Linked DNA regions of Homo sapiens. The protein of the gene in region 1 interacts with the protein of each later gene in a biochemical or structural test. Each region holds a gene or a part of one and is shown in the gene's direction. Other genes may lie near its edges. The genes, in order: TRPV4 and KAZN.

The links.
Region 2: the proteins of TRPV4 (region 1) and KAZN interact in a test that uses a peptide from one of them, tested with the Homo sapiens proteins (one study listed by BioGRID).

Annotation. Positions count from the first base shown.
Region 1 is NC_000012.12:109,820,305-109,831,247, reverse strand, and holds part of TRPV4 (transient receptor potential cation channel subfamily V member 4), read left to right. Parts: intron 1-3,645; exon of another isoform or gene 3,646-4,438; intron 4,439-10,943. UniProt on the Homo sapiens protein: Non-selective calcium permeant cation channel involved in osmotic sensitivity and mechanosensitivity. Activation by exposure to hypotonicity within the physiological range exhibits an outward rectification.
Region 2 is NC_000001.11:14,592,542-14,603,433, forward strand, and holds the start of KAZN (kazrin), read left to right. Parts: upstream 1-6,143; 5' UTR 6,144-6,441; coding exon of another isoform or gene 6,442-6,456; coding exon 6,457-6,682; intron 6,683-10,892. UniProt on the Homo sapiens protein: Component of the cornified envelope of keratinocytes. May be involved in the interplay between adherens junctions and desmosomes. The function in the nucleus is not known.

The DNA of each region.
Region 1 (10,943 bases):
TTCAGGCAAAGAGAATGGCACTAGCAGAGATATGACTTTTACCTGTTACCAGGTGGCTACACCTGGGGTTTATAGAGCAGAGAAATAGTTCTGTTTGTCTGGAGTTTGTGACGTGACTGGAAAGGGTGAGGGATCAGACAGGCAGGAGCTAAATCAGACCCAGAGGCCCAGAAGTCCTGCCTGGGAGTGACACGGTTGTTTGTCTGTTCTAGAAAGGTCCCTGTGGCTGCAGAGTGGGAAAGATTGGAGGAGCTCAGACAGAGAGGCTGGCCCCAAGGCTGGGGAAGTCATCCAAGCTCTGAGTGGAGAGCGGCAGCTGGAAGGAGATGTAGGAGGGAAGGAAACACACAAGACTGAGCCTCATGTGCCTGGCACATAGTAGGTGCTCAGTCAGTATCTATGGCATGGTTGTCTGAACAAATACTTTTGAGATGGTCAAAGTCCTTTGAGTTCCTTCCTCTGTTCCTAGGGGGATGGGGTCTACATGAAGTGGGTGTCTCTACTCCATGCAGGCCCTTGACCCTGCTGTCTGCCTCAGTTTCCCCCATTTGACTTTGGGAAAGACACTCCAGTCCGTTCTCCAAATTATAGGGACCCAGGTAACAGCTCCTCTTGTTGTCACAGATAGGGTCTGGGGAGCCAAGATAACATTTATTTCATGCCAGTGGGCCCTCTGGAATGCTCCACATCGCCCATTTGGAGCAGAATTCACCTGTTAAAGATTAATTCCGATCTCTTGAGATAAGTGGCTGCTGTTATGAACTCTGGGTACAAGGTTCTGTCTGGCTTTAGCCAACCCTGGGTTGCATTAACAACTATTATGATGGTGGCAAGCCTTTATTGAGCACTTACTGTGTGCCAAGCACTGAGTCAAGCACCCTCAGCACATTTGGATACAAAACTATTTTTGTCTCTATTTTTCAGAGGGCAGAATGAGGTCTAGAGGGTGAAATCTCTTGCCTGGGTTCTCTCAGCTGAGAAGGGGCAGAGCTGGGACCTGAATCCCATTTGTGTGATTGCAAATCCATCCCTTCACCTGTAAGGTGGCCCGTCCCCATTTGTCTGGACCCTCATTGGGGTGCCTGGGGTCATGGGGGAGCTACTCTGCAGTCCAGAGATAGGAACCTGAGTTGGCCGGGTGCAGTGGCCCACACCTGTAATCCCAACACTCTGGGAGGCCAAGGCAGGTGGATCGGTCGAGCCCGTGAGTTTGAGACCAGCCTGGGCAACATGGTGAAACTCTGTCTCTAGAAAAAATACAAAAATTAGCCGAACGTGGTAGCACGCACCTGTAGTGCCAGCTACTTGAGAGGCTGAGGTGGGAGGATCGCTTAAGCCCAGGAGTGAGAGGTTGCAGTGAACTGCGATTGTGCCACTGCAGTCCAGAGCAAGAGATCCTGTCTCAAAACAAACAAAGAGCCTGAACTGCAGACAGGCCTGGGCTTAAACTGCATCCGCATGTTTAAGACAGGCCTGCTATTCCCCGCTGGAGGAGCTCAGGGAAGCCACCTGGCCTCTCTGGGCTTCCATTTCCTCCTGTGTCAAAGGGACTCTCATCCCACTTTGCAGGGATGACCCAAGGCACGTGGATGGGGCTCTGAAGCACAGCTCTTCTGCCTCAGCCCGTGTCAGCTCCCCTTGTCCCCAGGCCCATTCCAGGGCATGTTTTCTTCCAGCTTATCCCCCAGACATCCTCAGAGAGCCCCTCCATGCCAGGTGGGTGGGTGGAAGGTATTGGGGGCAAAGCTAGACTTGCATTTGGGCAAATAATGATATGTTTTCAGCAATGAAATATTTATGAGCATTGACTGAGTGCCAGGAGCTGTCAACTTTTTTTACTTTCCTGATTTAATGCTTAAAAACTAGGGCTGGAGCCCAGCTGCCCAGGTTCAAATCCCAGCTTCCAATAAGTTCCATTATTCCTTTGGCCTCAGTTTCCTCATCTGGACAATGGGGATAAGGTAATGCCTGCCTTGCTGGGAGGTTGTGGACAGTCTTCAGCACAACCTTGAGTGTTTAGTTTAAAACCAGCATCTATTGCCTGTTGTTCACTTTTTTTTTTATTTATTATTTTTAGAGACAGGGTCTCAGTCTGTTGCTCAGGCTGGAATGCAGTGGTGTGATCATAGCTCACAGCAGCCTCGAACTCCTGGGCTCAAGAGATCCTCCTACTTCAGCCTCCCAAGTAGTTGGGACACACCCAGCTTATTAAAAAAAAAGGTTTTTTTCAGACAGGGGTCTCACTATGTTGCCCAGGTTGGTCTGGAATTCCAGAGCTCAAGTAACCCTCCTGCCTTGGCCTCCCAAAGTGCTCAGATTACAGGTGTGAGGGCTGATGTTCATTTTGATGGTGTCACAGCTTCCCCACTGCCGGGGGTGGGCAGGGGCAGGAATGCTGAGCCCCATTTTACAGCTGAGGAAATCGAGACTCAGAGAGGAAGCAATTTACCCAGGGATGCCCAGCTGGCTCATGGCAGAGCTGGAGCTGGAAGCCAGATCTGAGTGACACTGGTGTCCTTGGGTCCACGAAAAGCCCAGTGGCCAGCTTAGCTTCTTGCGTGGAAAGCTACGCTAGGCTCACCCACCTTGGCGTCTGAGCCACCTTAGCTTACCTCCCAGCTCCGCCAGTTGCTGCTCTGTGACCTCAGAAAGTGGCTTAAGCTCTCTGTTCCTGGGCTTTGCTGAGGTCAGAGCTCTGCCAACTTGAGGAGGGATTTGGGTTATTCTGGCTGCTGCTCTTGTTCTGGCCTGGGCTCCTTCAACCTCGGGTGCCCTTGCAGCCCATGAGCTGGCACCCCAGTGGCCGGACAGGAATGAGGAAGGGACAGGGCCTCACTTTCAATGTGACTCTGACTTCCTTCCCACCCCTAGCCCCTTCCTGAGCATTGGTTTCCCCTTTCTGCCCCGAGCCCTGGCCACTGCCGGCTGTGTGACCCCAAGGAGGTTACATCACTTCTCTGAGCATGTTTCCTCATCGGTGAGGGAGGATCACACGAGACCACACCAGGCGCACAGGAAGCCCTTGCCGGTCTCCAGATGAGGTCAGGGCATTGGAAAGGCCACAGAAGGAGGCGGGGGCTCAGGGGACAGACAGGCGGGCCATTGACCAAACGGGAATATCCTTCTATTTCTTTGGTTAGTGAGTAACAGCAGCCCCTCTTGTCCACCCACCCTGCCCCTTGCACAAAGAGCTCCTCAGTCTCACCAGGCGCCCGTTTTCCCCTGAGGGTGGAGTGGCCTGGGTTCCACCCGGTTGACCGAGTGGGCTGGCCACCTTCTGGGACCATTCCCTGTGTGTGTGTTTGTGTACGTGTGTATGTGTGTGTATATTGATGTGCGTGTGTATGTGCGTATGTGTGTCTGTGTGTGTATGTGTATGTGTGTATATGTATGTCTATATGTGTATGTGTATATGTGTATATATGTGTATGTGTGTATATGTATGACTATATGTTTATGTGTATGTTTGTGTATATATGTGTGTATGTGTGTATATGTATGTCTGTGTGTATGTGTGTGCATATGTGTATGTATATACATGTGTATGTGTGTATGTGAATGTCTATGTGTGCATGTGTGTATGTGTGTGTATGTTTGCGTGTATATGTATGTATGTGTGTATATTGTGTGTATGTATGTGTATATGTGTGTAATGTGTATATGTATTTGTGTGTAGTGTGTGTGTGTGTGTGTGTTTATGGAGGGTGGGTTCCATGGGCTTTGGGCTGAGACCCCAGCAGGTGAGGGTGGGACAGGGGGCATGGGGTTGACTGACCCATGGGTCTGGCTCACTCCTGTCCCTGCTTGGCACACAGGAGGGGCTCAGGAATACCTGTAGATAGAGTGAAGGGATGAATGAAGGAAGGAATGAGTGACTGGACAAGCCAGCCAGGCAGGGCATCAGAAGGAAGCACCTGCTCAGATACAGGCTCTGGCTCTGAGACCAAGTGTGCTTGAGTGAGTGTCCTGGTCTTGTTGAGCCTCAATTTCTTCATCTATAAAATGGGCTCACGATAGTTGTCCTCATGAGAGGTGTTGGTCTTATAGGCCAGAAAACCCCACACATAGCAGGTGCTCCGTAAGCTGTCTGTTAAAAAATGGATGGGAGGAAGCTAATTAGTTAGCTGGGCAGAGGTTCGCTTTGGAGACCTGTCTGCCCTGGAGAGAATGACTAAGCCCGTCTTTCACTCCTTTCCTCTGTTCATTCATTCATTCATTCATTCATCCAGCAAATACATCTTGAGCAGCTGCTATGTGCCAGGACCTGTTCCAGGCATCTGGGCCTCAGCAGTTACCAGAAGGGAGTCCCTCCGCCCTAGAGCTTTTGTCCGAGTGACATCATTCCACACGCAGTGCTTTGAGGCCACTTTGTGAGACTCTGATACCCACAATGACAAGTAATCCAGCAGTGGGAACTGTGATGAGCTCCCTTTTACAGGTGAGGAAACTGAAGCTCGGAGAGGTCAAGTGATCCGTCTGGGGCCACGCAGTTACTAAATGGCAAAGTCAAGATTCAGACTCCAAGCCTGTCACCACTGTGCCATCTTGTCCTGCTGAGTTCCAAGGGATATGGCGTTGAGAAGGGGGGTCCTAGGGAGAGGGCATGGTAGCCCCCAAAGGGATGAATGAACTCAAATGGATTTAAAAGCAGATGGTTGGAAGTCTAGCCACATTCACTTCCTGTAGCGTTGTGGACTCAGTTAAATCTCATTCTTTCTGATCTTCAGTTTGTTCATCTGTGAAATGATAACAATAACACCGACCTCAAATGAGAGAGAAATGTGAAAGTGCTTAGCATATGATAGGTATTGGATAAATGTCAGCCCTTACCTCCTTTCCCCCGGGACTGACTTTATACATCTGGGAATGGAGACAATAATATTTAATGTCTATAGTTATTATTTGGATTAAAATAGATAGAAGGGGCCAGCCATGGTGGTTCACGCCTGTAATCACAACACTTTGGGAGGCCAAGGTGTGTGGATCACGTGAGCCCGGGCATTGGAGACTAACCTGGGCAGTAGAGTGAGACTCCATCTCTACAAAAAATAAATTTTAAAAGTAGGAATGGTGGTACATGCCTGTGGTCCCAGCTTCTGGGGAGGCTGAGGTGGGAGGATTGCTTGAGCCTGGGAGGTCGAGGCTGCAGTGAGCTATGATTGTGCCACTGCACTCCAGCCTGGGTGACAAAGCCATACCCTGTCTCAAAACAAAAAACAACCAAATGGGAGGTGCTGTGTGAAGTGTGCCATGGAGGGTAGGCATTACTGATGGTACATTGCAGGCATTAGCCTCAGTCATAATTCCAAGCAGTTAACCCCTGAGGCAGCAGCTTACTGTTGGCACAGACTGGTGTTGAGGTGGGCTGGGACAGAGGAAGGATCTCAAACTGGTTTTCTGCTGCCTTGGGCTCCCTTCCCCGACTCCTGCCCCATCCACTCATAACGGGCACCTGCCCTCTTCCCCCTCCTCTGATTTGGCAAACTCGGGACTTTTGCTCCTAGAAGTGGGGTAGAGGAACGTATGCATGGACGAGTGTCCTGTCCCTTCTGGTCCTTAGTCTCCCAGCTGGGAGGCAGCCCTTGTCCTGACAGCCTTCTAAAGGTGACAGAAGATGGAAATGAGGTGGCGAGGAAACCCTTTCCAAAGGTGAGGTCTCTGCAGTCACGAGCCCTGGTTTTGGAGCCGGGAAGTCTGGGTTCCAGTGCCTGCCCAGTTCTGACCTCCCTGGACCTCAATGTCATCATCCCCCACCTCCCACTGCAAACTGAGGGAATGTTAGCAAGAATGGCAAAGCAGCCATTGAACATCCTTATCTGTAAAATGGGGGTAATAATTGCTACGACCTGGGTGGGGTTAAGCTGTATTTGCTCCATAGTTATTTGGTATACAGTACATTCATGCTTTAAACTAAAAAATAAGTTCAAGTTCATTGAACACTTGGTGTTTGTTGGGCACTGCACTGAAGGCTTGAATTATCACATTTAATCCTCACAATAGCTCTTTGGGGTAGGAGCTGTTATTTTATTTTTTAATATTTTAAAAAATAAATAAATTTATTTATTTTTTGTAGAGATGGGATCTCACCATTTTGCCCAGGCTGGTCTCGAACTCCTGGGCTCAAGCGATCCTCCCACCTTGGCCTCCCAAAGTGTTGGGATTACAGGTGTGAGCCACTGCACCCAGCCTTATTTTTTAGTTTAAAGCATGAATGTGCTATACACCAAATAACTATGGAGCAAATACGGCTTAACCCCACCCAGGTCGTAGTAATTATTACTCCCATTTTACAGATAAGGAAACCAAGGCCCAGAGATGAGATGTGACTTGTGCAAGACCATACAGCCAGTGAGTGGCAGATGAGATGTAAAGCATTGATCAGGCAACGTTCTCAGACTATAGAATCCTCTCTGGAGTTCTCCGTGGCTGTGACCATCCTCTAGGAGAGGGGCTAGGCCAGAGAGAAGGCGGGCCTAAGGTTTTGTTTTGTTGAGATGGAGTCTCGCTCTTGTCGCCCCCGCTGGAGTGCAGTGGTGCTATCTCTGCTCACTGCAATCTCTGCCTCCTGGGTTCAAGAGATTCTCATGCCTCAGCCTCCCGAGTAGCTGGGATTACAGGTGCATGCTACCACACCCGGCTAATTTTTGTATTTTTGGTAGAGATGGGGTTTCACCATGTTGGCCAGTCTGGTCTTGAACTTCTGACCTCAAGTGATCCGCCCACCTCGGTCTCCCAAAGTGCTGGGATTACAGGCGTGAGCCACTGCGCCCGGCCGGACTAAGAATTTGATGCCTCCCTCCTCCTGGGCTGGAGCTGAGTAGCATGTTCTCAAGCAGGGCTGGCTGAGAGGGTGGAATCCTGGGGCTATGCTCTGATGGGAAGGAAGCGAGATAAGGGAAGAAGGACCTGGAGCCTCCTGGGGTAGTGACTTTGTATCCTTGAGCTCCTACTACGTGCCAGACCTTGTTTGAAACCCTTTATGTGGCTGGGCACGGTGGCCGACGCCTGTAATCCCAGCATTTTGAGAGGCCGAGGCGGTCGGATCACCTGAGGTCAGGAGTTCGAGACCAGCCTGGCCAACATGGTGAAACCCCGTCTCTACTAAAAATACAAAAATTAGCTGGCGCAGCGGTGGGCACCTGTAATCCCAGCTACTTGGGAGGCTGAGGCAGGAGGATTGCTTGAACCTGGGAGACGGAGGTTGCAGTGAGCCAAGATTGTGCCACTTATACTCTAGCCTGGGTGACAGAGCAAGATCCTGTCTCTCTCTGTCACACACACATGCGCACACACACACACACACACAAGAAAGAAAAAAAAGAAACCCTTTATGTGTGCTTAATCTCCATGACATTCCCATGTTGCAACAAGGAAACTGAGGTTCTGGGAGGGAAGTGACCTGCCTGAGGTCACTAAGCCTGGAAGGGTCATTTAGATGTAATTCACATACTCATAACTCAGTCTTTTAAAACGTACAATTCAGTTGGTTTCTTAGTGTATTCAGAGTTGTACAGACATCAGCACTATCTCATTCCAGAACATTTTCATCACCCCAAAAAAGGACTCTGTACCCATTAGCAGTCACCACTCCCCACTCCCAGCCCCTGGCAACAACTAATCTGCTTTCTGTCTCTGTGGATTTGCCTGTTCTGGGCATTTCATATAAATGGAATCCTGCAATATGTGGCCTTTTGTGTCTACAAGGTGCATGCTCTTAACCATTAAGCCACACCGCTTCTTGGTGGCTCCTACCCAGGGGCCGGGACCCTTGGAAATGACTTGGTCCCTGTGAAAGCTCAGAGGGGCATCTGTGTGTGCTGTCAGCCGGCCTCCCTCCAGCCAAGGGCTTGCAGAATGACCAAATGACTGCCGTGGCCACGCTGGCCTTGCCCTCCGTGGGGCGCGGTGAGTCACCCCAGACCTGCCCTGCCTGGGTGGTGTGAGTGCATGGGGTGGGGGCCCAGCAGGACACTGGGGCTCTGTCTGTCCTGGACAGGCGGCCACTGTGCAGCAAACAGGAAGCGGGCTGGGCCGAGACCTGCTAGGTAAATACAGGCTGGCCAGGGAAGGTGCTGGGCATGGCATGATGCCCCCCTACTGCTGCCGCCTGCCAAGTGCCTGGGAGCCGTGGGGTAGCCTGGCAGGCAGTAGGTTTCGCCTGGCCAAGGAGTTGAGCTCCCAGCCGGCTGTTCCCAGCAGCCGCCACTTCGAGGTGGCTGCCAGAGTCTACCTCCAAGGCTCTGGATCTGGCCGCTCTGCCTTCTCTAGGAGTCATTGCCTTCCTTGGTCCTCAGTCCTTTTGTTCATCTGTTCCCCTAATGATACTAATAAATAGTACACTGATACTGATGATTCCAACAGCAGCCATGCTTGACTGAATGCATGCTCTGTACCAGGCACTGGGCTCAGTGTTTTGCATGCTTTATCTCATGTAACCCTCACGACAGTTCCCTTGGGGTAGGTGCTAGGATCATTGCCATTTTTCAGGTGAGGAAACCGAGGCATGGGCAGGCCAGGTGACTTGCCCAGAGCTGGTGAACTGGTGGTTCGTCAGGGACTGCGACCCATCCCCCACTCCATTCTTTCTCCAGCTTCTCCCTCCCAGAGTTCCCTTGTCTTTGTAAAGTGTCCATCAAAGGCGCAGGTCCCGGGGATGCATGGGTTCTAATCCTGCCTCCCCCTTTCTGGAGCAAGGCAATGCCAGACAAATGACTTCGCCTCTCTGAGCCTCAGTTTTCTTACCTGGAAGGTGGGGAGGGGGTGGACAGGTCTGGGATTTTCTCTCTAGTAACAGCAAAGCTCAGAGTCCTTGTCTTCCTAGTACCTTCCTATCCACATGTCCCCGGCAAGACTGATTTGGAATGGCAGGCACTCACAGTTGTGTTTATTTGAGGGTACCACAGGAAGTGGGGGCCCCCAAATTGGCTAAGGAGCCCCAGGGTGGAGGGAGGTAGAAGCACACTGGGTCTGTCTGGGAGCCTGAGCACCTTCTCTGTGGGCTCCTTCCTACCCATGGATTCCAACCCCCACCCACCTCCCCACTGCCCACCCACTCACCCATCTCTTCTGCTTTCCTTCTCCCTGTGCCCCAGGCCACACCATTCCTCTGTGCACCCTGCACTTTCCCCTCTACACCTTTGTCCTTGACACCTCCTCTGCCCTTTATCTTCCTCCTCCTCCTCCTCACAGCCTTTCCCCCTCCCCATCAGGATTCTGGCTGCCCTTGCTCTGCAACCCTGCCTGGAACTTCAGGTCCCTGATCTTACAGCCTAAAAAAACCAAATATTCATTGACACCTCATTTTGCTTCAGCACCATGCTGAATGCTGGGGACACAGGGGACACGAAATAGTCCCTACCACATGGAACTAAAACTCTGGAGGTGAAGAGAGAAGATGAATCAAAGAATAATATATAGGCCGGGTGCGGTGGCTCACACCTATAATCCCAACATTTTGGGAGGCTGAGGCAGGTGGATCATCTGAGGTCAGGGGTTCAAGACCAGACTGACCAACATGGCAAAACCCTGCCTCTACTAAAAATACGAAAAATTAGCCGGGTGTTGTGGTGCATGCCTGTAATCCCAGCTACTCGAGGAGGCTGAGGCACGAGAATTGCTTGAACCCAGGAGGCGGAGGTTGCAGTGAGCTGAGATCATGCCACTGCACTCCAACCTGGGGGACAGAGCGAGACTCTCTTGAAAAAAAAAATACATATATAGAAAAGTTTAATCGTGGGAAGTGCTGTAAAGGAAGGCACATGTTACTCTAAGAGTAAAGAGCAGGGGAAACAGGAGGGCTTTTCAGAGGAAGTGCCCTTTAACATGAGGCCTGAGGAGTAAGTGGGAGCCAGCCAGCGAAGGGAAGGGCATTCCAGGCGGAGGGAACAGCCTAGGCAAAGGCCTGGAGGCAGAGAGAGCCATCAGCCTTCCCTCCTGGACTGCGAGTTCTCTGAGGTTCCACACTTTTATGTCTCCCCTGTGCCCTGCAAACAGGTGCCACTGCATTGATGCCTGGTGGAATGAATTGATTCCAGAAGGGAGGGAACCGGGAGAAACCAGCTCCCTGGATTCCTCCCCGCTGGGGCGGAGCAGGTTTGCATGCCCAAACTTGCCCCCAGATTTAAGCAGCTTTCCTTGGTCACGTAATCAGGAGGATGGGATTTGACAAATGTTTGCCAGGGTTTCCATGAGATCAGGCAAAGCCGCGGGTAACCCCGAGGATGGGCCCCTTTTTCCACCCTCCGCAAGTTGGGGCATGGGGACGGAGCCAGAGACCTCCACCGCCTTTGAATCCGGGATTCTCAGAGAGAAGCCATCTGTTGTGCAATCTGCTGTTTATTGAGGCTTTCTTTATGCCAGGCACTTGACTCAAGGTATATACCTCTCACAACGACCCTATTACGATCCCTTAATAGGGCAGCTGAGGGCCGGGCGTAGTGGCTCACGCCTATAATCCCAGCACTTTGGGAGGCTGAGGCAGGCGGATCACGAGGTCAGGAGATCGAGACCATCCTGGCTAACACCATGAAACCCCGTCTGTACTAAAAAAATACAAAAAATTAGCCGGGCGTGGTGGCGGGTGCCTGTAGTCCCAGCTACTCAGGAGGCTGAGCAGAAGAATGGCGTGAACCCGGGAGGCGGAGCTTGCAGTGAGTGGAGATGCGCCACTGCACTCCAGCCTAGGCGACAGAGGGAGACTCCGTCTCAAAAAAAAAAAAAAAAAAAAAAAAATAGGGCAGCTGAAGAAAGTGAAGATCAGAGAGGTTGGGTAACTTGCTCATACTCACCCAGCAAGTGAGCTGTGGGTCTGGGATCTGACCCTCTGGTCTGCCTGACGTCAAAATGTGCCCCACCGGCTCAGGGGGCCATGAGAGCAGAAAGCCAGGTTTCTGGAAAGCCTGGGGTCTCTGTCTAGGGCAGAAAGGAAGGTCTGGGGACCCTGG
Region 2 (10,892 bases), on another chromosome or scaffold:
AAGCAGCTTCTGAGAATTCCATGTCATGTGGTCTTCATCTTCGCTTCGGGAAACACTGAAGACCAGAGGCTTGTGGCTAGAGCCTAGGAAGGGACACCGTTTGCAGGAAGTGGCCTTCAACATTGGCTGCAGGGAGCAGGACCCCATTCGTGGCTCTCTCTCTGGCTCCTGCAAGCAGCCACTTGCCAACCCAAAGAAGCATGAGAGTTTCTCAGGGCACTGACTCCAGGGTCAAGAAGTTCATCACTCACTGGCTTCCCTTTCAGCCTTCCCCCTTTCCACCTTGTCCCACGTACGGATTCCTGGAATCCAGGATTTATCACTCAGCCTTACCAGGTGGAATGCATGAATGCCGCCTCTGGTCTCTGAGCTAGGCAGAAACGATGCTTCTGATAGGATAGGAGAGAAAACTGGGCTTTATGTGGGAGTATCTGAGTCCTGGCCCCCAGCTTATCCACTCAACAAGTATGTGCTGAGCACTGAAGGGATAAGAGGTGGAAGGAAGTGCAGGCAGTTTTGTGATGCTTGGACAGATCTCTTAACTTCAGTGTCTTCATCTGCCATGTGCAGATACCAGTACCCTCTCTACCCAACGGAGTTGTCGCAAGAATAAAATAAGAGAACTGTGAAAGTGCTTTGCAAAATTAAGATGTGACTAGAATTCCTGGAGAAGACTGAATGAATATGAGAAGGGTTTTAATGAGAGTAGCGAGAATATTTGTGGATATGAATTTGTAGGGGACAAGGAAGATGAATTTGTTCAATCAACCACAAACTCTTTGGAGAAGCATCTATCACACCAGACAGGGGGAGCAGAAAGCAGAATGGGATATAAACCCTGCCTTCCTGAGGCTCACGGTCTGGCTCATTGGGTACATGCGGGGGAGGGACGGAGTAGTTTTAGCCAGGGCATTTTACTGCATGCAATAGAAATAATCAAATTAGCTCAAGAAAAGGGCATTTATTCTTGGGAATTCCATGGAATCCAAGACAAAGAAGAATAAGCAGGATTGTTTTGGAAACCCCAGGAGTTTAAAGACCTTCACCCCAGGGAGCCAAACTCTTGGGGACTTATCTCTCAAATCCTTCAGTCTGTATTTCAAATTCCCAAATAAATAAACAGAACAATAACCAATGGCCATATACGCTATGAAATAAGTAAATGTTGAATGTTAAATCTGAGGGATGAAAAGGAATCAGATGCAGAGAGCCAGGGGGAGAATGTTCCAGGGAGAGGCAAGGGAAAAGGCAAAGACCTTGAGGTCAGAAACAATTAAGTGGCAAGAGAGTGGTGAGCAAGTGGTGTGGTGCAAGAAGTCAGTGGCCAGTTTATGCAAGGCTGTGGGTGTAATTTAGGAAGTGCCACGTGACACACATCAGTGGAAAGATGGGCCATTTTCTGAAGACCCTGGTTAAATTCTTCCCAGCCCCTTCACTGACAAAGCTGCGTGGTTCATTCCTAAATCTGGGGTCTCTCTTTCTCTGTCTGTAAATAAGGAGGGCACTAGAGTAGACAATCCCCATTGCCTTCTAGGACCAAATAGCGTCATTCAATCATAGAGTAGGGCAACCATATATACTGGGTTTCCTGGGACAATTCCTATGTATGCCACTTGTTTTAGCTTAATTCAATTACTCATTGCGCCCTCTTTTGCTCTCAGCAGCATCCCAGTCTTGACGTTATATTATGAGGTCACTCTATTTCTGGGAAAAGGGAGGTGCATACGGCTGTGCTGTCAGCAATGGGTTAGGCCCTTAGCCTTGATTCTTGATAGGAATTTCCTTTCTCTGAGCTACAGGGAAGCTGGTTTTGCAGACTTTTCAAAATACCCAGGCAAGCTTTGATGGGCAACAAACACACACGGCACAGTTGGCTTATTCTGCTCAGAAAGATCAGACAATGTACGTAGAGGCTGGTGACCACATATGAGCCGAGGCCTGGACCTTGGATGGGGTTGGGCTGGTTGAGAGTGATAGCAGCAGTGACAGTGGAAAAATGATAGCAAGTCCCTATGAAGTGGACCCATTTTCTGTCTTGGTTCTTAACATCAGCCTACTGGGGTGTGAGATTGGGACTATTTGGGGAACACGCAAAAGGGGGAACCCTGAAACAGAACCCACAGTACTGCCAAATTCTCATAGCTGTGAATCCCATGGAGAGACAGCTGTGGATGACAGACTTCTCTGGAATCCTTCTCCCAACAGTTTGCAGGTGTGTCCCAGGACACCGGCGGTAAACGCCTATCAGCCCCCATAGACAGGCAAATGGGCTTGCAGGAGGGGGTTAGGCCAGTGGGAGGGGACACAGATTCCGCTGACCAACTGGACCAACCAAGGCACTTAGAACTGCTTGGTGTAACTTTGGGAGGCCAAGGCAGGTGGATCACAAGGTCATGAGTTCAAGAGCAGTCTGGCCAAGATGGTGAAACCCCGTCTCTACTAAAAATACAAAAATTAGCCAGGGGTGGTGGTGGGCACCTGTAACCCCAGCTACTCGGGAGGCTGAGGCAGAGAATTGCTTGAACCCGGGAGGCAGAGGTTGCAGTGAGCCAAGATCACACCACTATGCTCCAGCCTGGGAGACAGACCAAGACTCCATCTCAAAAAAAAAAAGAACTGCTTAGTATATCTGCAAACCAGGATTCAGTTCTTTGTAGTCTTTCAGTTACCTTATGGGGGGGCAGCATCAAAACTACAGAGCTGTGTGGGTCTTGAAAAGGGGGATGCCGTGGTGCAGCCATTGTGGAAAACATATTAGCTGTTCCTTGAAAAGTTAAACATAGCAACCGTTTTGTTCCTTGAGGTCACCTCCGGAGGAGCGGTGGTAAAGCCTGGGGATAAGAAACGTAGACCCGGCCGAGCGCTGTGGCTCACGCCTGCAATCCCAGCACTTTGGGAGGCCGAGGCAGGTGGATTGCTTGAGGTCAGGAGTTCGAGACCAACCTGGCCAACCTGGTGAAACCCTGTCTCTACTAAAAATACAAAAAAAAATTAGAGGGGTGTGGAGGCCTGCACCTGTAATCGCAACTACTCAGGAGGCTGAGGCAGACAATCCCTTGAACCCAGGAGGCGGAGGTTGCAGTGAGCTGAGATGGCGCCACTGCACTCCAGCCTGGGCGACAGAGCAAGACTGCGTCTCAAAAAAAAAAAAAAAAAAGAAAAAGAAAAAGAAAGAAAAAAGAAAGGTAGACCTTTTTGGTTTAAATCAAGTATACCCGCAGAGGCTAATTGATTGCAGACTTTCTATCTAAGATCTAGTCCTTTGGTGTGTGGGTGAACATAAGGACACACAACTGGAAAAAGCCCCTTTTTTTCATGTTAGGAAAAAAAACTCTCAAAAAATAAAATTCTTAAAATCCTAGGAGGCACCCCAGGAGTTTCTAAAGCAGCTTCTTGAAACCTCAAAAATAGAGGGATGAGAAGGGGCTCAAGGAATGAGTCTTTTCTTTTCTCCTTATTAGATTTTTTTGTTTTGATTTGATTTGAAGATTCCGGTGTGTGGGAATAATCTCACTGAAGAGCAAAATGAGTAACACTGGGTCACTTTGTTTACTACACAAACACACTCACACGCATTCATTTACAGAACACTTACTACGGGCTAGGGCGGCAAGGACGCAAAGATGAATGACATAAAAAGCCGGATAACCCTCCTTCCCCCACCCACAAGTTCCCAGTGAAGTGGGAGAGAGACATATAAACAGATAAATTACTGTTTCTTCTGCTGAGTGCTATACCAGAGGTGTGAGTGCACGCACACGTGTGCGCACACACACACACACACACACACACACACGGCCCTCTAAATAGAGCTACTCTTAACTGTTTGCTCAGAAGCCCTAGTTCCAAAACATTCCCATCCTCTCTATTTGTGTATTTGCATATATGACTTTTTGATTGAGGTAAAATTTACATAACATGAAATTAAGCCCTTTAAAGTGAACAATTCAATGGCACTTAGTACATTCACCGTGTTGTGCCACCACCACCTCTGTCTAGTTCTAAAACATTTTCATCAGTCAGCACAAAGTAACACCCGGCACCTATTAAGCAGTTACTTCTCATTCTTCCCTCCCCACAGCCCCTGACAAACACCAATCTGCTTCCTGTTTCATGGATTTATTTATTCTGGATATTTCATATAAATTGAATCGTATAATATGTGACCTTCTATGTCGGGCTTCTTTCAACTAACATAATGTTTTGGAGCTTCATCCACGTAGTAGTAGCATGTATCAGTACTCTTCACGGCTGAGTAATATTCCATTGCATACTGCAATTTGTTCATCCAATCATCTGTTGATGGACATTTGGGTTATTTCTGCCTTCTGGCTACTAATGAACAGTGCTGCTATGAACATTCATGTACAAATTTTTGTTTGGATATTTGTTTTGGACATATACCTAGGAGTGGATTTGCTGGGTCGTATGGTAATCCTATGTTTAACTGTTCAAGGAACTGCTAATATGTTTTCCACAATGGCTGCACCACGGCATCCCCCTTTTCAAGACCCACACAGCTCTGTAGTTTTGATGCTCTCCCCATAACGTAACTGAAAGACTGCAAAGAACTGAATCCTGGTTTGCAGATACACTAAGCAGTTCTAAGTGCCTTGGTTGGTCCAGTTGGTAAGAACTTGTGTTAATGAGGTTAAGGTCAGGGTTCGATCCCCGAACTGACCCATTAGCTGAGCAGAGCGGACAGAGTGAAGAATTGTGTCTTCCTGCCACATGCTCCACCATCAAATCCTGCCCTCTTGCAAAAGCTTGTTAGTGGTCACAGGGGAATGGAGCAAGACTGTTTTTATGGTTCCACAGAAAAGGGGGGAGAAATCTATCATCCAAGGCCTCCTGAAGGCGCAGCAGGAGGAACTTGCAATCAGATGATTACTTTCTTCCAGTCCCGCTGTCACCTGGTTTCTGCGGGCCCCTTAAGTAAATTGCTTAACCCTATGCAGAGCCTCAGTTTCCTTATCCCTAAAATGGGAATAATAATCCTCACTCACAAGAGATAAGAATGCATATAAAAGCACTCTACACGCAGTTTTTGCTTGGTTCTTATGGGCTTCCTGTAAGAACCTGAAGGGTGGGCAGCCTCATTTTTCCTCGCAGCACCCCACTGGCTTCTGCAATCTGCTCTTTGCTGCTCTCCGGAGGTTGACTGAGCTGGAATGATGGCGCCCTGTTGACCAGAGGGTTGCTGGCTGTTTTAAATTGTCCTATTTGCATGGAATGAAGTTTGCTATGGTAACAAGGTCTGGTGGCTGGAATCCAGGGCCCCAGTGAAAAATGCAAAGCCTGTGGTCTGGGAGAGAAAGAGGAGCTGGAGAGGGCATATCAACGTCAGGTTACCTCAGTTCTTCTGTGAAGAGGGGATGGGTAAACTGAGGCAGCAGGGCTCAACTCTTCTGCTCCCAGTAGAAGAAAGGGAAGAAGCCCCATCGACGCCTTCCTTCTTATCTCTCAACCTCATCTCTGTCCCCGCCAATATTCAGCCCGGCTAAGAAGCTTAGGAGCTGGCTAAGGCTGCTCCTCCACCTGGATGCACACACAGGGCTAGGGCTGTGGAGAGGCGGGAGCACCAGCGGCCCACGCCGAGGAAGATAGGCGCTCCCTCCTGGGGTGGGCAGCGCAGGTCTGGCCTGCGGGTGGGGGGTGGAGAGTGAGAGGCACGCGGGGCACCAGCTCAGCTCCCCTCTGGGGATTTCGTACTCGCAGTTTAAGGAACCGGTGGAGCACGAACTCCACTCCTGAGCTGGCGCAAGCGTCTCCCTTCCATGGAGATCCACCCCGGCTCCCCTCTGAGGCCCCCTTTCCAAGCACCCTCTCTTCCGAGCACCCAGCACCTCCCCAACCTTAGCACGGCTCGGGGCACCAGTTCTCCAGGGCGGGGGCTGCCCCACCGCTCAAGGGAGGGGACAGAGGGCCGGCCTCGGTCCAGGCGACCCCTGCCCCTCGCCAGGGGCGCCACCTTGGCCCCCTCCCGACTGCCGTCCGCCGCCTCCGCCCCCCCGGGGGGTGTGTCTCCGAAGTACGGGGGCGCGGGAGGCCAAGGGTGCCCCCAGCCTCCGACCGAGACCCCCTCCCGAGCCGGCGGCGAATGGTAGGCTCCATTTAAAGAGTGCCTGGTGGCGCGCGGTGTCCTTCTTGGAGCAGCTCTCGGCGCCCGCCCGCCGGGGTCTCGGCGATCGCTGCTCCTCCTCCTCCTTCTCCTCCTCTTTTTTCTCCTCCGCCTCCTCCCCCCGCCGCCTCGCCACCGCCGCGGCTAGGGCTGGAGGCGCCGCTGTCATTCCTGTGCCGGAGGAACCGGCGCTGCCGGTGCCTGGGGGTCGGGGCGCGGGCGAAGCCGGGCCGCGGAGGACACAACAGGTAGAGCCGGGGGTGCCCGGCCGCGCGCCCCCCGCGCATCATGCAGCTCTTTGTCACCTCTCTCGCCCCCAGGCCAAAATCCTGAGCATGATGGAAGACAATAAGCAGCTCGCGCTCCGCATCGATGGGGCGGTCCAGTCGGCCAGCCAGGAGGTGACCAACCTGCGAGCCGAACTCACGGCCACCAACCGGAGACTGGCGGAACTGAGCGGCGGCGGCGGCCCCGGCCCGGGCCCGGGAGCCGCGGCCAGCGCCTCGGCGGCGGGGGACTCGGCGGCGACGAACATGGAGAACCCCCAGCTTGGAGCGCAAGGTAGGATCGCCCCGGCGCCCAGGGCGGAGGAAGGCGAGCAGAGCACGCCCGGCCTCGGAGGTGGCCGGGGACCCGGGGTCCCCCACACCCGGGGCGAAATCGCTTTGCATTCTGGCTTGTAACCCTTTCCGCCCGGCGGTGGCCACCGCTGCTCTCCGGCTGGGAGTTGCAGGCTGCTGTCATTCACGAAAACCCGAGCGCAGTGTGCACGGGGTCACACGGTCACACCGGCCCCGGCCAGCCTGAGCGAGGCGCAGCCGGCGGGTCCCTTCCGGCATCAGAAAGTGCCCTTTCCGTGGCACCAGCCCCCTAGCTCCGTGCAAACTTTTCATGCCGGGGCCTTTTCCCCACCCCCCGCAGGGGTGAATGGCACAGTTCCCCCCACTTCCTTAGGCTCCTTCCCAGAGAGAGCTCCGGGCTCTGCCGCCGTGGTTGGGATAGAGGATTGCACTGCTGTGCACTTTTCTCCGCGGATGCCAAATCCCTTGGCTCAGTTGCATCTGGACTTTATTTTCTTCTCATTTGAGGTCTCTCAGGCATTGGAATCTATAGATGCAACAGTAGATGCTCAGCTCAGCAGGGAGTTTAAATTTCCGCAAATATAAACACCGAGAGCACTTTCCAGGGGGATACTGTAGACCTCAAAGGTTGAGCGGTAGAGAAATGAAGGCTTAGGGTGGTGGGCTGCAGGGAGCCCGTTTGAAGGGACTCTGCGGTTTAGAGAAGAGGAAGAAAAAGACAGTTGGTTTGTGTTCACATTGACAGAGATTAAGCTCTGAAACCCCCTGCAAGACATAAAGGCGGATGGGGCATTCCCTAAAATGTACTGTTTGGTTTCTGTGACTTAGAAAGTAAAAGGGTAAGCAGGCTTTGGGGGATTTTTTTTTTCTTTTTGCCTAATTGCCCTTTAAGAAACAGTATCACTGGTTATTAATATCATTTGAATTGCAAATTAAACTGCTGAAATCCAGAACAGGACAGAAACAAATCTCCAGTCCATGAGGTCCACTTGTCTAAATATGTCACTTGAAGTGCAAGGTACCAATTGCTCAGTGGCTCAAAATGATTTTCTGGTTCTGTTGTCATTTCAAGAGCTTCTCTTGAGGGTTGAGAGAGTCTGTTTTCCTAAGAATCTGGTTCTCTCCATCAGTCTCTGTTTCCACCTTATCTTCCTGGGAAGGTGTGCTTTCTTTGAGGTGAGATGTGAAGCCTGCCCACGTGCAGTTTTATGTCGAATTCCAAGTCAGATCTTAACTTGGTACTCCCGGAGCCTGTTGGAAGTCTTAGGAATTGGGGGGAGTACTTTGGTAAGGAAGTAGCCATGACGTAATGGTGAGAAGGTGTTGTGGTCCTAGTGCTTGCTGCAAGCTTGACATGTGGTTATTCTTGTCATCCTTGCAATGTCATTGTGTGCGAAAGAACATTCTCCACTGGAACCTGTGCAAAAAAAAAAAAAAAAAAAAAAGACAGACTGCAAGGTAATGCTTCACTTTTTATAGGCAGAGGCTCTGCTAACATTAAAGAAATAGCTAAGAACTGGCATTTTGCTAAGAATCAAAAGCTGTATAGTAAAGGACACTGAACAATGCTCGTTTATTTCCCACTGTCTGCCCCTTTCTCCGCGAAGGAAAAGTTAAGTGGCTTTTTATCTGAGTCCTGGGTCTGGTTGTAGACTGGGCAGGCTAAGGCAGTCAACGCAGTAATGATGTCCACATGCTCAACTTGAAAACTGACATACTCGCGGATGGTTAAATTGTTGTAGTGGAGCAACAGGGGGCTGATTCCTTGTTCTTTTTTCCTACACAAATGCACAGGGCTGTGGAAATGAAAATGGCTTTTGGATCTCTTGGATATCCTTAAAAACACATAAAACCAGCAGCTCCCATACGCTCTCAGGACTGTGCCTGCCCATGTCAGTGGCTGGCTGTGGGTGGTAGGATGAAGGGTGGTCTTGATTTCTCCTCTTTGTACATTGGTATGTCTCAAAATCTTTCCTAGGGGCACTTTGTGATTTTTATAATCAGAAAATAAAATGTTCAAAGGTTTAAACTCTACTTGATTGTTGGCCGCATAACCGTCTAAACTGATATGCATTTCAACAGATGTGATGGTTGAAAAGAAAACAAGCCCCCGTATAAGTTCAGTGGGGTATCATTTACTTGTCTGTAGCAACAGTACTTGATACATTATTTAGCCTCTGTAAGTTTGGGGGATTTTTTTTTTTTGATGGGGGCGGGAGTTGTTTTTGTTTGTTTTTGTTTTTTTCATAGCCTGTGGCAGCATCCTGCTAGCACAGAAACCCTCTGCAGAGGTGGTCTGGTAGTTTCTTTTGCCATTGCTTTCATTATCCTAAAAAGAAGCCTTGAGTTCTCACACAAGTTAATTTTAAAGTGCAATTGATTGGGTTCCACTTGATTCTTCGTAATACACCTCCAGGGAGGCTCCCAGAGGCTCAGCTCCTCAGGGTTTCTGACTGTTCTTCCAAATTAGTCTTGTGTTTTCATTTTGTCTGTGTTGGTGCAGTTCAATGGGCCCAGACCCTAAGAGTGTTTAAGTGCTATTGAGTTATCAGTTTTCAAATCAAGGTTTTGAATAAAACGAGTATCTTTGCATTTCAAAATGCAACCGTGTAAGTCATCTTTTAACGAAAGGGCATTATGCACATATTAAATGCATGCTAATGTAACTTTAACAATATTAGTACAAATGGTTTTGGGAAAGAGTCACCTTTTGCTTCCTCTGCCAAGAGACTGTTAGATTCATTTTCAAATGTTTTTGTTTTTGTTTTTTAAATTCTTTTTTTAAATGAATGAAGCAAACTCATCAATCCATCATTGGCTGTTTTGTTCCAGGGATGACAACGGGCAGTAGGTAGGTTGGTATCCCCTTTTGATGAAGAAAATTTGGGTTTTCCTAGCGGGTTAATGCAGTGTGTCATTTAAACAAAATATTAACTTGGTTGGTACTCCCTGTGAGCTGGCATGGTTGCTATGTAACAGAATCTAGAAAGTGAACTGCTGAAAATCTGGGCTTTCGGCACTTCGGAGGATATTCTTTCGGAATCTGTGTTGAAAGAATTCCTGGCAGCCAGCCCATCTTGTCTCTCCCTCCTGCAACTGAGTTGGATAATCCTTAATGAGAATGCTGGCGTACAGTGCAGAGGGCGTCCGTGCAGGGTGACACATTTCAGAGCTCCAGAGGCTGCCTTTTGGGTCGGTGGGGTCACGGCAGCCTTTGACAGGTGGACAGAAGGAGGCTTGGAAAGAACAGAGCCAAGCATTTGTTCCAATTCATCTTGTTGTTGGTAGCCAGAGAAGGGATTTGTTTAAAGTAACATTTCTAAGCTGTTTTCCTCAGCATAACATCTCTGGGAAAATGTGTTTAAAATGCTTGCTGTTCTTTGAGGGGAAAATGTAGCAGTTTGTTTCTCTGAAAAAGTTTTATCAGCTGATGAATGACTAATATTAGATTCAGTTGGTTGCTTTGCTATGCATAGAACAAAACAATTAAGTGCTATGGTACCCAATTCAAATAGGTGTTAACTGTATATAACAAAATACTTAATGCCCAGTAGGATGTATGCCTACTGTCATTAGTTTTCTTTGTTAAAGAAATAATTGTATTTGTATTCCTATGCAAGTGGACGTGCTGATAGCATCTTTCTTTGGTGTGGAGGACTTCCTGCCTACTGCATTTGTTAGAAGGGGATGGAGGCAAGGGTCGGTTTCCTGTACCTTTGTACATTTCCATAAATGCGTGCAAGTTGTATTTTTCTCTCCAGGCATTAAAATAGGCTGTTACTTAAGGCCTGACAGCTCTCATCTACCATTACTACAACACTGGAAACTCTTTCGTGAAGTATAAATTACCTTTGGAGTGAATTGAATGTGTGAGTAGTCTGTGGAGACGCTAGACACTGTCGCTTTGCAAAGTAAGTTCTGTCTTTTGGCATCCCCTTCTCAATTCATTCTGCCTCTGCTCTTGTTTTCCTAAGTAGACTTTTATCTTTTTTGAGAAAGAGAATTTTCAAATGGCAGAGAGGATGGAACAAAATGTTGGGGAATCTCGGGCCTTCTGTTAGCTTGCCACTAAGTTACAGAGCTCAGCAAGTAGCCTGCGCCATGGTTTTCCAGCCAGATCAAGGGGTTAAAATAGAGTGTGTCTTTTCCTAACCTGTCATGGGATGGGGATTCAGTCTTCTCCCTGAAAA